2 separate regions of the Homo sapiens genome follow, and region 1 is linked to region 2. Evidence: fine-mapped expression QTL. A gene starts in region 2. The other region holds a variant in brackets. All regions are shown on one strand. Distances are between the middles of the regions. Region 1 has its middle 13 kb from the start of COMMD5. Region 2 holds the start of ZNF251 (zinc finger protein 251).

What was found.
Region 1: its variant is fine-mapped to the expression of ZNF251 in whole blood (INTERVAL, PIP 0.91).

Annotation. Positions count from the first base shown.
Region 1 is chr8:144,861,464-144,869,793 of GRCh38, forward strand. No RefSeq gene overlaps it. Among named protein-coding and RNA genes, the nearest start is that of COMMD5, 13 kb to the left of the region's middle. The variant T/A (reference allele first, on the strand shown) is at 4,887.
Region 2 is chr8:144,751,873-144,760,202 of GRCh38, forward strand. It overlaps ZNF251 (zinc finger protein 251), which reads right to left and starts at 3,659. Exons shown (of 5, transcript NM_138367.2): 1 at 3,533-3,659; 2 at 2,824-2,931; 3 at 2,320-2,449; 4 at 1,811-1,924. The coding sequence starts at 2,856. LOC107986986 (a long non-coding RNA gene) reads left to right here. Exons shown (of 3, transcript XR_001746149.3): 3 at 5,434-8,330.

The DNA of each region.
Region 1 (8,330 bases), 110 kb after region 2:
TTGCTGCCGTGGGAGTAGCTAGAATAACCTGGTGAGGACCCGTCCACTTTGGTAGGAGAGGGGAGGAGGAGGGGTCTGTGATCCAGACCCAGTCCCCCCTGGTTGTAGGGACAGGGAGGAGTGTTTTGAGGATGGACTTTCAGGCGGCGGCAAGTAAGCGTTAGTGTACTGTCTATTAGATGGTGAGTGAGGTGTAATGCTGGCCAAGTACCCCATGCAGAAGGGCGGGGAGATACAGGGAGATTTTGGAGGATAAAGGGGCATCCATACATATGTTCAAATGGGCTTATGCTGAGGGGCTTGTGAGGAATGGCTTATAAATGCATGAGGGCCATGGGGAGTAGTAAAGTTTAGGCCATTTTAACCTCTAGGGAGAGTTTGGATAATTGTTGTTTTAGAAGGGCATTGGACCATTCAATCTTACCTGAAGATGAGGGTCAATAAGGAATATGGAAGGCCCATTTAATGTTTAGAGCCTTTGCCAGCTGTTGGCTAACCTGTGAAACATATGTTGGCCCGTTGTCTGACTGGATGAAAGAGGGGAGTCCAAACCGGGGGATAATATGTGTGAGGAGAATAGAAGCAACAGTGTGGCTTTTCAGTAGTAGTAGTAGTGGTGGTAGGAAACCCCTCTATCCATCCAGTGTATCTACTATTGTCAGAAGGTTCTGGACTCATTTTACAGGGGGCATGCAGGTGAAGGCGATTTCCCAGTCCTGCCCTGGCAGGTGTCCTCAGGCCTGGTGTGTGGGGAAAGGGGGTGATTTGATAGCTTTCTGAGGGGAAGTCTGAGTGCAAAGGGAACATGCCTTAGTAATATCTTTGAGATTGGCAGCCATGGTGGGAGAATGTATATGTTTTTAAGAGCTGAAGTAGGGGGAGGCAACCAGCATGGAAATGGTTGTGCACATATAAAAGTACAGAAGGTTTTTTTTTTTGAGACAGAGTCTTGCTCTGTCACCCAGGCTGGAGTGCAGTGGCACGATCTCGGCTCAATGCATCCTCTCCATCCTGGGTTCAAGCAGTTCTCTGCCTCAGCCTCCTGAGTAGCTGGGATTACAGGCGCCTGCCACCATGTCCGGCTAATTTTTGTATTTTTAGTAGACATGGGGTTTCACCATGTTGGCCAGGCTGGTTTTGAACTCCTGACCTCAGGTGATCCTCCCGCCTCAGCCTCCCAAAATGCTGGGATTACAGGCGTGAGCCACCATGCCCGGCCCAGAAGGTTTTTAAAATTTGGCCAAGACAATTTTAGCACTGAGGTAGAACCATTTTTTCCTGAATGGCACCAGCCAGGGCAAGTGAGGTTTGTTCCTCCTGGGTACATACAGGGTATATGCTGGGAAAACTGGGCAATAATGATGGGGTTTAAGGGCTGCCTGCCGGGCTGCCTAATTTGCTAAAAGATTTCCCTTGGTTATGGCATTTGTAGCCTTTTGGTGTCCCTTACAATGGATAATGGTGGCCTGTAGTGGTAGTTTAGCTGCCTCCACCAGCTTGTGTATGAGTTTGCCATTTACTATGGGGGTTCTTTTTAGCTAGAAATCCCCTTTCCTGCCAGATTAAGGTGTGAGAATGTAGGATGTGGTATGCATATTTGGTATTGGTGTAAATGTTTTTTTTTCCTGTAATGGAGTCTCACTCTGTCACCCAGGCTGGAGTAAGTGGCACAATCTTGGCTCACTGCAACCCCCGCCTCCTGGGTTCAAGCAATTCTCCTGCCTCAGCCTCCAGAGTAGCTGTGACTACAGGTGCCCGCCACCATGCCCAGCTAATTTTTGTATTTTTAGTAGAGATGGGGTTTCACCGTGTTGGCCAGGATGGTCTCGATCTCCCGACCTCGTGATCCGCCCGCCTCGGCCTCCCAAAGTGCTGGGATTACAGGCGTGAGCCACCACGCCGGGCCAGGAATCAGTGTAAAAGTTAACCCTCTTTCCCTTTGTTAGGGTGAGGGCCCTGGTTAGGGCAACCAACTCTATCTGTTGAGAGGTAGTTCTGCCTGTTGCGAGGTAGTATGGGGTGGGAGAGCATTAGATTCTGAGAGTTTATTTTGGCAATGATGTTGTAACCACATGGTGGACATGGCTCCTTTAAAGAGCTTCCGTTAATGAACCATGTAGTTGTTCCCTGCAAAGGGGCTTCTGAAATGTGTTGGAAGGGGGAGGAAAGGGAGTCTAAGAGGTCCAGGCAGGAGTGAGACAGCTCAGAGTCAGAGGTGTTTACAGGGAGGAGAGTGGGAGGGTTGAGAGCTTTACCTTTCTGGAAGGTGATTAGAAGGTTTCCTATGAATAAGGTGTGTACCTGGTGTAAGCAGGATGATGGGAGGGATAGAAGAGATTGATGGCTCATGAGGTCCTGTAGGTTATGGGAAGATGAAATAGTAATGTGTTGGTAGAGAGTGAGTTTCTGTGCCTCCGAGGCCAGCAATGTGGCCGCACCCAAGATTTTTAGGCAGGGTGGCCAGCCTTGGACGACAGTCTGGTTGTTTTGAGGGGTATGCAATGGCTTGTGTTTGGCAGAGCAGTTCAAGAGCAAGGCCTTGTCAGAATGTACATGCAGAGTAAAGGGCTTGGTGGGGTTGGGCAGTCCCAGTTCTGGGGCCATTAAAAGGGTATTTTTTAGTTTTTTTTAAAGTGTGAATTGATGGGACGAGCCGGGTTCAGAGGCTCTAGGCTGGGCCCAAGTGAGGACATGTAGAGCAGCTTGGCCAGCAAACAGAAGTTGGGAATCCACAGCCGGAAGTATCCCATGAGGCCCAAGAAGGACAGGAGGTCCTTCTTTGTGTGGGGAAGGGGCAATGTCTTGAATTAGCTCCTTTTGTTGGGTTAGGATGGCCTGAGAATTAGGGGTTAGAACTCAGGTGAGTGACCTGGGTTTGGGCTACATGAGTCTTTGTTGGTGAGACCCAATATCTTTACCTATGGAGGAAGTTTAAAAGCTGAGTGGTGCGTTGGATGGACAGGTTAAGGGAGGGGCTACAGAAAAGTAGGTCATTGACTTATTGAGGGAGGGTGCTAGGAGCAATGGGAAGTTCAGCTAGGTCCTTGGTGACGGCCTGTCCGAATAGGTGGGGGCTGTCCCAGAACCCCTGTGGGAGTATGGTCCATGTTAGTTGGGTGGACATGTGGGTATTAGGATCTGACCAAGAGAAAGCAAAAATACTTTGGGAAGCCGAATTTAAGGAAATAGTGAAAAAGGTGTCCTTTAAATCCAGTACAGGGAAGTGTGTGGTAGAAGAGGGACTATGGGAGAGTGGAGTATGTGGGATGAGAGTGGAGTGTTGGATGAATTGGTATTACCACCTGGTTAACAACTCAGAGATCCTGGACCAAGTGGTAGGATCTTGAGAATATTAGCTTGTAAAAGTTTACAGATAATAGGTTTGAGGCCCCTGAGGCTGCCTGGGTTAGGGGATATTGAGACTGATGATGGAAAATGGAGTGGTTTTGGAGGGTTATTTTAACTGGGATGTGATGTGTGGCTATTGTGGGTTTAAAAATGTTCCAAATTTCAGAATTAACAGAAGGTAACAGGGTGGATAACGAGGATGAGGGGGAGAGGGAAGCATCTGGTGGCAGAATAAAATAAAAGGAGCGGAATTGCAGGAGGCAGATTGTATGGAGGCCTGGGATTTACTTAGTATGTCCTGCCCCAAGATAGGGGCAGGGCACCGAGGGATAACCAGGAAGGAGTGGGTGAATGGGGTGTTGAATAGGTTGCATAATAGAGGACCAGTCTGTTTGTGCCTAGAGGGGATTCCATCAACTCCCACAATACAGATAGAAGAACTGAGGAGGGGTCCAGAATATTCTAATAAAACTGAGTAACTAGTCCCTGTATCCAATAGGAAAGACATGGGCTTACCAGAGACTGACCCTGGGTTCCGAGGTGGTGATGGCAGTTGGGGTGGTAGGCCCCTGGCCCCATCAGTCTTCAGTTAGAGGTGGTGAAGCGGGATGAAGAGTTTTGCTGAGCACAGTCCCACTTCCAATGTTCCTTGATGCCACAGATGGGGCAAAGTTTTGAGAGTAGGCCTTTGCCCAGTGACTCTGTTGGCTGCACTTAAAACAGGCTTCTGGTAGAGTTTGCTGCAAGGTTGAGGATTTCTGTACATGTTGGGAACCCTGTTGAATGGCAGCTGCCAGCATCTGGCATTTAGCCTGGTCTCTTTTTAGCTTTTGGACTTTTAGTTTTTCCTCTCTATTGTTAAAGACCTTAAAGGCCACTTTGATTAAGTCTTTTTGGGAGGTTTGAGGGCTATTCTCCAGTTTTTTAAGTTTCATTAGAATGTCTGGGGCTGACTGGAAAATGAAGTGTAAATGGAGGTAGATTCTTCCCTTATTGGCATTAGGGTTCAACGTGGCATATTTAGTTATGGCCTTTGAAAGGCAGGAGAAGAAAAGAGCAGGAACAGCTTTATTTATTTATTTTTGAGATGGAGTTTCACTCTTGTTGCCCAGGCTGGAGTGCAATGGCGTGATCTCGACTCACCACAACCTCTGCCTCCTGAGTTCAAGTGATTCTCCTGCCTTAGCCTCCCGGGTAGCTGAGACTCGGACTGGCTCTCCTTGCTCCACAAGCTTGCAGACAGCCTATTGTGGGACCTTATGATTGTGTAAGTTAATACTTATTCCCCTTTATACAGGCATGCACCACCACGCCTAATTTTTTTTTTTTTTTTTTTTTTAGTACAGACGGAGTTTCTCCATGTTGGTCAGGCTGGTCTCGAACTCCTGACCTCAGGTGATCTGCCTGCCTTGGCCTCCCGAAGTGCTGGGATTACAGATGTGAGCCACCATGCCTGGCCAGGAATGGCTTTATTTATGCCAGCTAGGAGGCATATCATATGGCCTTATTTCTATCTGTCTGCAGAAGTTGCCTGATAA[T/A]CCCAACTGGGGTCAGTTCTGGGGACAGTTAGGGTCCATATTGGGTTATGGGCAGCATCTTGTCTATGGGAGGGTGTCTACATGGGCCTGGGCAGCTATCCAGATGCATTCCCTGTCCTCAGGGGTGAGGGTGCAGGAGAGGATGACATATATGACATGCCAGGTAAGGTCATAAAATTGAGTGACATACAGAAATTCCTTGAGGAAGGAGGTGGGATCTGTGCAAAACGAGCTGAATCTCTTTTTTTTTTTGAGACAGAGTCTCGCTCTGTCGCCCAGGCTGGAGTACAGTGGCGTGATCTTGGCTCACTGCAAGCTCCACCTCCTGGGTTCACACCATTCTCCTGCCTCAGCCTCCCAAGTAGCTGGGACTACAGGCGTCTGCCACCACGCCCAGCTAATTTTTTGTATTTTTAGTAGAGACAGGGTTTCACTATGTTAGCCAGGATGGTCTCAATATCATGACCTCGTTATCAGCCTGCCTCAGCCTCCCAAATTGCTGGGATTACAGGTGTGAGCCACCACGCCCGGCCGCTGAGTCTCTTTTTAAGCTGAGAGAGGTCGACTAGGGAAAAGGGAACATGAACTCAGATTATGCCTTTAGTCCCTGTGACCTCCTGGAAAGGGAGAACTTAGGAGGACCTTTGGCTGTGTGCCTGGTTTTTGGTGGAAGGGGGCTGGGCACGTGCCTAGTTTGTTGGCTAGGTTGAAATTAGAGGAGAAAGGTTTGTCTGGAGGAGGAGGCGTTTTTGTGGGTTTTTTGTTGAGGAGGAAGATTTGAAAAGGTGAACGGGATTGGCAGAGAGAGAGTGAGCCAGGAGCACAGATAAGCAAAGCACCTCAGATCATTTACGATTGCACTGGAGGAAGTCTTTTAGATTATGTCAGATGTGGAAATTGAATGTTTTGGTTTTTGGCTATTGACTATTATTGTCTAGTTTACATTGGGGCTGGGCAACATTACAGAGGAAAGTAAGGTGTTCAGTTTTTTGTTTTTGTTTTTGTTTTTGTTTGAGACAGAGTCTCACTCTGTCACCCAGACTGGAATGCAGTGGAACGATCTTGGCTCACTGCAACCTCTGCCTCCCCGGTTCAAGCAATTCTCCTGCCTCAGCCTCCTGGGTAGCTGGGATTACAGGCACCTGCCACCACACCCGGCTAATTTTTGTATTTTTAGTAGAGACAGGGTTTCACCATATTGGCCAGGCTGGTCTCGAACTCCTGATCTTGTGATCTGCCCACCTTGGCCTCCCAAAGTGCTGAGATTACAGGCATGAACTATCACACTTGGCCAGCAAGGCGTTCAGTTTTAATGGAGTCTGCCAAGCCCTGGGCTTGGAGGTTCTGGATGGAAACATCCAAGAGTGGTGTCTTGAGGTTTTGAGGAGTGTTGCCCCATACTGCTGGCCAGAGGGTGAGAAATTTAGAGGATGGAAGTACCCCAGAGGGAAGTGAATACCCCGGAGGGGAGTGAGTACCCCGATTCCTCCTGGGAGAAGGGACCTAGGAGAGCCAGGGCGTCCCTACAGCTCTTTGCAGACCCCCAGAGGCTGCAGTGGCCAAAGTGGTGAGCATTCTGACGGCGTCCCCTGAGAGGGTAGGCCACGGTCACCTGGTGACCAGGGAGACCTCTCACCTGGTACTGGAATTTTCTGGTGAACCCCCAGAAATATGAGAGGAATCTGGAGAGGAAAAAAAGAGAGACTCACCCACTAATTGGAGACGGGTGTTGGATGTGATGTCCAGCAATGGGATTGATACTTGCTGGAGCTGCCTGGAAAGGGGAAGGAAGGAAAAAGAGGATGGAGAGTTTGATCAGGATCTGGAAGTCAGCCCAGGACCAGAGAAGAAGAGAGAATAAAGGAACGGAGCTGGGAATAGGGAGTCCATTCAGGATCTGGAAGCAGGCCTGGGTCTGGTTTTTGCTGCTTGCTGCTTTCCAGGTTGCTAGAAAACATTTACCCATTTAGAACCCAATTCCTATCCTGGGTTTTGGCACTAAAATGTTAGGTTTTGAAGGGAGGGCAAGGGCTAAAGAAACACACACACACACACACACACACACAGAGAGAGAGAGAGGAGAGAGAGGGGGGAGACAGACAGAGAGAGAGAGAGAGATTGTTGCTCAACAGCAACAACACAGGTATATTGCAAAAACCTGTGGAGATGGGGGACGAGCTTAACTCCAGAGCCCATAGCTGCTTATAGGCTGGGGAAATTTATAGGTGTGATGGTTAATACTGGAGAAATGTGAAAAGGCCAGACTGGCCTACCCTCCCAGCCTACATCTTTCTCCCATGCCGGATGCTTCCTGCCCTCCAACATCTGACTCCAAGTTCTTCAGTTTTGAGACTTGGACTGGCTCTCCTTGCTCCTGAAGCTTGCAGACAGCCTATAGTGGGACCTCGTGATTGTGTAATTTAATACTTCCCTTTTTATATATATTCCATTAGTTCTATCCCTCTAGAGAACTCTGACTAATACAGATTTTTGTACCAGGAGTGGTTCTGGAGGAAGAGGATATTAAGGATGGAGTTCTGTCATTGGTTTTGGGGTTTCTGGATTTGGCTGGTTAATATGATTAGACCCCAAAATGTTAAGGACTCTACTTCTAATAGTATGGAGAACACTGATAGTCCTTGGCATAAACTGTTTAGAGAGTTATGCAAAATAAATGCATTTGACACTCCTGATTCACCATTCATGAGAGGCAAGGAGTTTAGTGACCCTATACATAATATCTTTGACTATATGTGGAGAACCAAGGAACATGATGAAGCTGGTTGGTTGCTCCTAAGTTCAGTGGACAAAGTGATGAAAGAAAATGATGGCTGGGCTGGGCACAGTGGCTCACGTCTGTAATCCCAGCACTTTGGGAGGCTGAGGTGGGAGGATCATGAGGTCAGGAGATCAAGACCATCCTGGCTAACACAGTGAAACCCCATCTCTACTAAAAATACAAAAAATTAGCCAGGCGTGGTGGCAGGCGCCTGTAGTCCCAGCTACTCGGAAGGCTGAGGCAGGAGAATGGCATGAACCCAGGAGGTGGAGCTTGCAGTGAGCTGAGTTCGCACCACTGCACTCCAGCCTGGGTGACAGAGCGAGACTCCGCCTCAAAAAAAAAAAAAAACAAAAAAAAAAAGAAAGAAAACGATGGCTGGGCATGATGGCTCATGCCTGTAATTCCAGCACTTTGGTAGTGTGGGCGGCAAGCCACCCAGGTGCTGAGGCAAGAGACCGAGGGCACGAGCTGTTCCAGTATAATAAAATATATAAAACAACAAGTTATACTAGATCAGATCACAGACATGATTATATATGAATATCATTAATCATTAGTTTGTAGCAATTACTCTTTATTCCAATATTATAATAATCCTCACTCTATAATCATAACCTAGGAAAAACCAGGCCATACAGATATAGGAGCTGAGGGGACATAGT
Region 2 (8,330 bases):
ATGCTAACAGTAAGTATAAGAAGGATGGAATTGCTACATTAATATTAGATAAAATATATTTCAAAACAAAATGTATTACCAGAGACAAACAGGAATTCTCTTATCTCTCATAATGATAGTCATAAGTGAAGTAAGTCTTATAATACAGCTTCAAGATACATGAAGCCAACACTACAAAAATTAAAGTGAAGAAAAGACAATTCCACAATCATACTTCTGTATTTTAACACCCCTCTCTCAGCAACTGAAAGAATAACTAGACCAAAAAAAAAAAAAAAAAAAAAATCAGCAAGGATACAGAAGACCTGAACAATACCATCAACCACCTTGACTTAACTGATATTTATCTAACCCCCAAATGGCAGAATACACATTCTTTTTCAGTGCACGTGGTATTTGTACTGGGAGAGACCACATTTGGGGTCATAAAACAAGAAGCAACAAATATGAAAGGAATGAAATAATACAGAGTATGTTCTCTGACCACAGTGGAATTAAATGACAATAACAATAAGATAACTAGGAAAACACCAACTATCTGGAAATTAATGCATGTCCAAATAATCATTGGGTCAAAGAAGAAGTCACAAGAAAAACTAGATAACATTTTGAACTAAATGTTAATGAAAATACAACATATTAAAATTTTGTGAGATGCAACTTAAGCTGCACTTTGAGAAAACGATATAATTTTACAATCTTAGCTCTTACATGTAGAAACCAAATGCTTTATTCAACCAATTTTGAATGTGCACAAATATGGGGTATATTTTTCACGAGCCTTTCTGAATAAACTAGAAGACAAGCTCCAGCCAACCAAGAGATGGGGAAATTTTTGGTAAAAGGACCAGAGATAAACAATTATTAATAACATACTTAACTGGAGATATAAGCCAGTAACAAAGCTGCGGATATGAGTTGTAAAGTGTTATATGTTCTGACAGTGTAGAAACAATATAACCAACAAAAACTGGGAAAGGAATGAGGAGGAAAAGGGAGAAAAGTAGAACAAGCTTGTTGACTGTCTCAGTAGCTGGCAGTCAAAGATAATACTTACAGCTGACATATCAAGTAGTAGATGTATATTCAATAGAACAAAGGTAAACATTAAAAAAAGCCACTGGTCAGGTGCAGTGGCTCATGCTTGTAATCTCAGCACTTTGGGAGGTCGACATGGATCACTTGATCTCAAGAATTTAAGACCAGTTTGGGCAACGTGGTGAAACCTTGTCTCAACAAAAATAAAAAAAAAACTAGCCAGGTATGGTGACATGTGCCTGTAGTCCTAGCTACTTGGAAAGCTGAGGTGGGAGGATTGCCTGAGCCTGGTACGTGGAGGTTGCAGTGAGCCGAGATCGTGCCACTGCACTCCAGCCTGGTGACAGAGTGAGATTCTGTCTCGAAAAAAAAAAAAAAAAAAAAAAAAAGACTACTACTGACTAAACTTGGCAAATGAAGGAGAGAATGGAGTGAAGAATAAAAAGGACATGGTAGGGTACCGATATCTATTGTCAAAAGGAAATAAGTGTATTATAAAGAAGGGAATGAAGTTGTTATCAAGGTAAATCACCAAAACAAAAATATGATCAGAAGTAGTATATATATATTTTTAAAGCAAAGAAACAGACCAGCAAGATAAAACTTCTAAAGCATGTGCACATGCTCACATTTGTAGAGGGGCTGTATCTGTGAGACTGCCCCTGGGGGAGGCCATTAATATGAACGCCATGCCCCAGCTGTCCCTCGCTTGGAGCCTCTTAAGGCAGGATTGGGAGGCTGCTCCCAGGATTAGCATCCCATCCATTCTCACCTTTCTGGCAGCTTTTCAAGATATCTGGTTCCTCAGCTCCCAGAAGATTCAGGACCCAAAGTTCCTTCCCCTGCTCCAGCTGGGAGATCAACTCCGGCTTAGGGACAGGGAATCCTGTTGAGGATGAGGACACTGGTGAGCTGGCATGGCCCACTGGGCCTTCCAGGCCAGGTGTGGAGAGATGGGCCCTGTGTGCACGTGTGTACGCCTGCACGTGTGTTGGTCAGGGGGCCCGTGGGCTGAGACTAAGTACTGAAGGAGAATCCACTCATCAGCTCTCCTGCCACTGGAGGGACACCAGTGGGGCCACTGGCAACAGGGAGTGAAGTCCCTAGAACTGGGGAGCAAGGCAGGCTTTTCCCATGGGAAATGTTCCTTCTGTAGAGATCAGACTGATACCCGGGGACAAGGGGCAGGACCCTCTTCTTTGGGATCCAAAGAGCCAAAGCAGCCTCCCAAGCTCCTCAGAGGCCCCCACTGCGAACCAGGCCAAGTGCAGAGAGCCTCACCCAGAGAGGCCACGTTCCCATAGTTCTCCAGCATCACATCCCGGTAGAGCGCCCGCTGCTGGGGGCCCAGCTGCCGCCCCTCCGCCTGAGAGAAGTACACGGCCACATCCTGGAAGGTCAGCGGCATCTCCTGCAACAAAACATCGCCGCTGCCCAGGCCATGCCCACGGGGCAGCAGCCTGCACTAAAAGGGCCCTGACCTGGTGGGGCCCCACTACCCAGGGCCCTGCTGTGGTCAGTATGAACTGTGTATCAGCAGGTCCCTGATGGGGCAGCTGAGAGCGCTGAGGACCAGCCAACTTCAGCTACACGGGGACCCAGCTGAGCTCAGAGCCCCTCTCCCTGCAGGAGGGCGAGTCTACCTCTCAGAACCCTTTCCTCACGGTTGCTATGAGCCCCTGGCTGGCCTTACCAGTTGCCGGGCTCACGGCTCCAGAGGAGAGTAGCTTCTGACTGGGATGGGGATGAAGATGAAGAGGTGGGCAGGAAGGAGGGTTAACTCACCTGGTGCCCTGGAAGCTGGAATGTGGCTGCCATTCTGTGTGCATGGGCTGCTGTGGTTTCCAAGAGAAGACAGGAGACTGCCCTGGCCTGAAGTCTCCCCGAACTTACCTTCAGTGGGGAGAACTCAGGCTCAGCCCCATTCAACCAGGGGTGTGGAAGGATGGCCAGGAGGCAGAAGCTGATTGCTGCTGTGGCCTCCTGGGTCGCGGGAGGCAGGTCACTATGCAGCACGGGCCGACGTGCCCTACTGCTCAGTGACTCCTGAAATCCCAGAACGGCCAGAGCCAGAGCCCGGGGGGATCCAGGGACGCCCGGCTAAGGGGTGAAAGCTGGCAGTTCCCGTGGTCCAGACCTGCTGAAGGCCCTGGAAATGGGGTGCAGGGCCGTTCTACCTGCCTGGCCAACCTGGGGCAAAGAGCCACGTGAGGGTGCAGCCTCACCAAGGCTGAGGACGTGAGAAGGAGGCCGCGGGGATGCTGCCGAAGGCCCCAGGCTCCGGGGAGAGGCCGGAAGCCAGCTGTGGTCCTCAGTCCAGCCTTCTAGGGCCGCGCCGCGGTCGCCTCCTCCCGGCCTCTGCAGCCCGTCGGTGGCTCCCGCGGCACCCAGAACAGGCTCCTCCTGGACTGGCCGCCGCCTCCCCGCGCCCTCCCCGCGCCCTCCCCGCCTGCCTGCCCGCTTGGCGCTCCTTCCTGGTCCGACACTGCCCCACCTGTTTGCTCGACCCGGGGAAGCCACCGAGGAAGCGCCGAGGAGCTGCGCAGTCGCACCGAGCCCGGAACGGACCCTCCCACAGAACCGGGTCCAGAGCCGGGGAGGGGGCGGGCTAGGATGAAGAGGGCGGGCCGGGCCGAGCTGCGCACACGCAGGCTTCCCCGCCCCCTGCGGGGCCTCAGTACGCCTCCGAGAACGCCGGGAACCGGAAGCCAGCCGCGGTTCCGCCCGGATTCTTCCGGGGCCGCTCTGGGATGACTGGAGGCCTGCGCCGTCTATGGTCGGGGAGGGGGAGAGCCCACGGCAGCTGAGCGGAGGGTCTGGCGCGGTGACGCTGCGCATCCGGGCCGCGCCGCGCTCGCCCCGACCCTAAACCCTCACCTGAACCCTAACCCCGCTGGGCTCCCGGCTCCCCCGTCGGTCACCATACATCGTGTGTCCCGATTCACCATAACCACCAGAAAGTCGCTTATGAAGATGTTACAATTATCGGGGCTCAGAACACAACGCCCCAAAATGAAGGCCTGGGAGGCAGTTTCCCTCTGACCTTCCCAGGCCTCCAGTCTCAGTTCTTTTCTCCCGCGAGGCTCCTCACAGAGTGAATCCCTTTTACCCAAGGCGAGTCCCAGAGGCCAGACCCCCAAAGCCAGCCACAAAACCTAAAAACACGACTCTGATGTTCCCCCCGCTTTTCTGTGTGAAAACTGGCGGTAAAGGCCGGGCGTGGTGGCGGGCGTCTGTAGTCCCAGCTACTCCGGAGGCTGAGGCGGGAGAATCGCTTGAACCCGGGAGGCGGAGGTTGCAGTGAGCCGAGATCGCGCCACTGCACTCCAGCCTGGGTGACAGAGCGAGACTCCATCTCAAAAATAAATAATAAATAAATAAATAATCCATTTATTTGCCTTTTCTCCAAAAATCTGCCTTTTATGAGTTGGCTTTCAGTGAACCTTCAGAGGGCAAAGAGGAACTTTCCCTTTGGCCCCTACACAATAAAGCATGGTTGAAAAAATAGCACTTGATAAAGGTGAGGAGACCAGCTTAGGAGCAGGGGGAGAAGGAAAGGAAAGCCAAGCCATCTTGTCACCCAGAATATAGTGTAGGCCCTGTACACTGTGTTAGAATCAAGGCAGAAATTTTATATCTGAACTTGAGACGATCAACGAGGATGGAGAATGTCTAGAAGTCTAAAGCACCATGCAAAGTCACACATGATTAAGAAGATGCCTTACATTATTAATATCAGTGCTGGGGAGATTGTGGAGAATTACGCACTGCTATGCTTGAGGAAGCGTGTTTAGTACAATGTTGAAAATGAATTAAGCTGTACATAAAGAGCCTTAAACACTTCAATTAATCTAGGAATCTATCCTATGGAAATAACAAAAATGACAAAGAGAAGGGTGCCCATTCCAGAGTTTGTTGTGTGTGTGGTTTTTTTTAAATAATGGGGAGAATTTGGAAAATAGCTAGTTATTCATAGAAGGGGAAATGGAAGATAATTATGCTTTTTGCAGCACAGAAATAGATAAATCTATTGTCTTCTGTACACTCAGTTGAACATTATGCAGCCATTATGTGTGGTATTTGAAAAAAAAGTATTGGCAGAGGGTAATGCTTATGAAATAGAATGTGAAAAATAGAATACAAAATTATATTTATGATATGATCTCAATTGTATATATGGGTGTTTAAGTTCACAAACTTAAGGTTTCCAGATATAAGGACCTAGGTTGGTTTGTTCACTGCTCAGCCACCAGCCTGGAACATAGTAAGTACTCTATAAATACTTGGGAAGTGCTTGAAAAACGTATATAAAAAGCTGAAAATAAATACATCATTACTAGTTGTAAGATTGCAGAATATTTGATTTCCTCTTTTTCTTTTTCACATCTCCTACAGGGGGCGTGTAATCACTCTGTGACTGGTGGCTGCAGGCTCTCCTAATGGATATTTCCTATTTACAGGGCTACCAACTGCCAAGCATCCAAGCAGTCCCTAGGCAGCAATCCAGCAGCTGACAGGGTTACCGGCGTCAACTGCCACAGATGCTAGGCTGGTTTGCCATATTTACATGGATTTGATCAGCAATGAGCACAAAAGATAGAGATTGTTTCTTTCTTTCTTTTTTTTGAGGTGGAGTTTTACTCTTGTTGCCCACGCTGGAGCGCAATGGTGAGATCTTGGCTCACTGCAACCTCCACCTCCCAGGTACAAGTGATTCTCCTGTCTCAGCTTCACAAGTAGCTCGGATTACAGGCATGCAGGACCATGTCCAGCTAATTTTTTTGTATTTCGTAGAGACGGGGTTTCACCATATTAGTCAGGCTGGTGGCAAACTCCTGACCTCAAGTGATCCACCTGCGTCGGCCTCCCAAAGTGCTAGGATTACAGGTGTGTGCCACTGTGCCCAGCCTAGATTGTTTATTTCTTACTCAAACAGCTACAGCATGATCAGCAGCCTGTGTCCCTAGACACACAAGATGACAGCAAACCATAGGGGCCAGATGACAGAAAGCACAGATGGTGGCCACGGTGCTGCTGAGGCGCCAGCTCCACACTGCAGCCAGGCAGTGGTGTGTCCGCAGCTGTACCCCAAGGAGGGGCAAAGGGAGCATCCCAGACGCAGCCAACCAGGGGCCCAGGGGCGCTGCTGTCACTGTCGTTTCTTACAAGGTTGCTTGTCTCCCTTAGTTTCAGGAGGAACCTCCAAGCATTCTGCCAAACTCAGTTCACACGGTGATGGACCTTGCCACACAGCTATGTGAAGATGTCCAAGGTCCTCAGGGCCCAGAACAGAGCTGTTCCCTACTCCACTGACCTCCCTGTTTCTAAAACCAGTGGGCTTTTTTTTTCCTTTGAGACAAGGTCTCTCTCTGTTACCCAGGCTGGAGTGCAGTAGCACAATCTCAGCTCACTGCAACCTTCACCTCCCCGGGCTCAAGCAATCCTCCCACCTCAGCCTTATGAGTAGTTGGGATCACAGATGCGTGCCACCACATCGGGCTAATTTTTTGTATTTTTTTGGTAGAGACAGGGTCTTGCTCTGTTGCCCAGGCTGGTCTCAAACTCCTGACCTCAAGTAATCCACCTGCTTTGGCCTCCCAAAGTGCTGGGATTACAGGTGTGAGCCATAGTGCCTGGCCACCAGTGGGCATTTTTTAGTTTTCCTTTACTTGACCTCTCAGCAATATTTGACACCATGAACTGTCTGTCCTTCTTGGAACACTTGATTTCCTTATCATCAATAATACCACCCTTCCTTCATTTTCTGCCAACCACTCTCAATCTCCTTTGCTACTTTCTCCTCTACTCAGTGTCTGCCCTGCGCATTCTCCTTACTTTATTCTACATTTTCCTCTAAGAGAGCTTACCTTGTCTCATTTCTTCAACTGCTACTTACATGTAAATTACCCCACTTAAAAAAATTCCATCTCAGACCTTTCTTCTGTGTTCAAACCTTTAGAAATACATACTCAGCATATTTACCCATTGGCTGGGCACGGTGGCTCGCGCCTATAATCCCAGCACTTTGGGAGGCCGAGGTGAGCGGATCAACTGAGGTCAGGAGTTTGAGACTAGCCTGGCCAACGTGGTGAAACTCCATCTCTACTAAAACTACAAAAAATTAGCCGGGTGTGGTGGTGCACGCTTGTAATCCCAGCTACTCGGGAGGCTGAGGCAGGAGAATCGCTTGAACCTGGGAGGTGGAGGTTGCAGTGAGCCGAGATCATACCATTGCACTCCAGCCTGGGCGACAGAGCGAGACTCCATGAAGAACAACCACAACAACAACAACAAAAATTTAAGCGGGCCTAACACCCACGGCAAGCAGTGCCGGAGAGGGCAATCAGACTGGGGGCCGGGGCAGGCCCTTGTTCTCACTCCTCACATTCATGACAAATATACCTGTGTCTTGGGAAATTCTGGGGAGGAAAATTCAGACCCTTCCTTCCACCGTACCCTCTCAGGAGGAGTGGTGGGAAGAGAGTGACTTCATTGGGAATCCTTAACCTGGGGGACGGATGGCAATCCGTCTGTATCTTCCTCCAGCTGCCTGAGGTACATTCAGTACTTGCATCACCAGTTTCCACGTACAAAAACACCAGAATTCAGGCAGCCTGGCCAACATAGTGAGAACCCATTTCTAAAAATAAAATAAATAAAATAATAATAAAGCCGATTAGGGACCATGATTTTGCATCTGCAGCCACAAGCGCCTGCTAACTGTCATGAGAAACTGACCCTCCCAGTCATATGTAGAGGCCTCTGCCATGGCAAAGAGCAGACCCCAGTGCATTCCGTCTGATCCCAGGAAGATTGGAAGGACAAAGAAGCTGGAGGGGCGGGAGCTACCTTGTTGCGGGAAGTCAGGGACCCCAAACGGAGGGACCGGCGGAAGCCATGGCAGAAGAACGTGGATTGTGAAGATTTTATGGACATTTATTAGTTCCCCAAATTAATACTTTTATAATTTCTTATGCCTGTCTTTACTGCAATCTCTAAACATAAATTGTAAACATTTCATGGACACTTATCACTTCCCCAATCAGTACCCTTGCGATTTCCTATGCCTGTCTTTACTTTAATCTCTTAATCCTGTCAGCTGAGGAAGATGTATGTCGCCTCAGGACCCTGTAATAATTGCATTAACTGCACAAATTGTAGAGCATGTGTGTTTGAGCAATATGAAATGTGGGCACCTTGAAAAAAGAACAGGATAACAGCAATTGTTCAGGGAATAAGAGATAACCTTAAGCTCTGACCTCCAGTGAGCCGGGCAGAACAGAGTCATATTT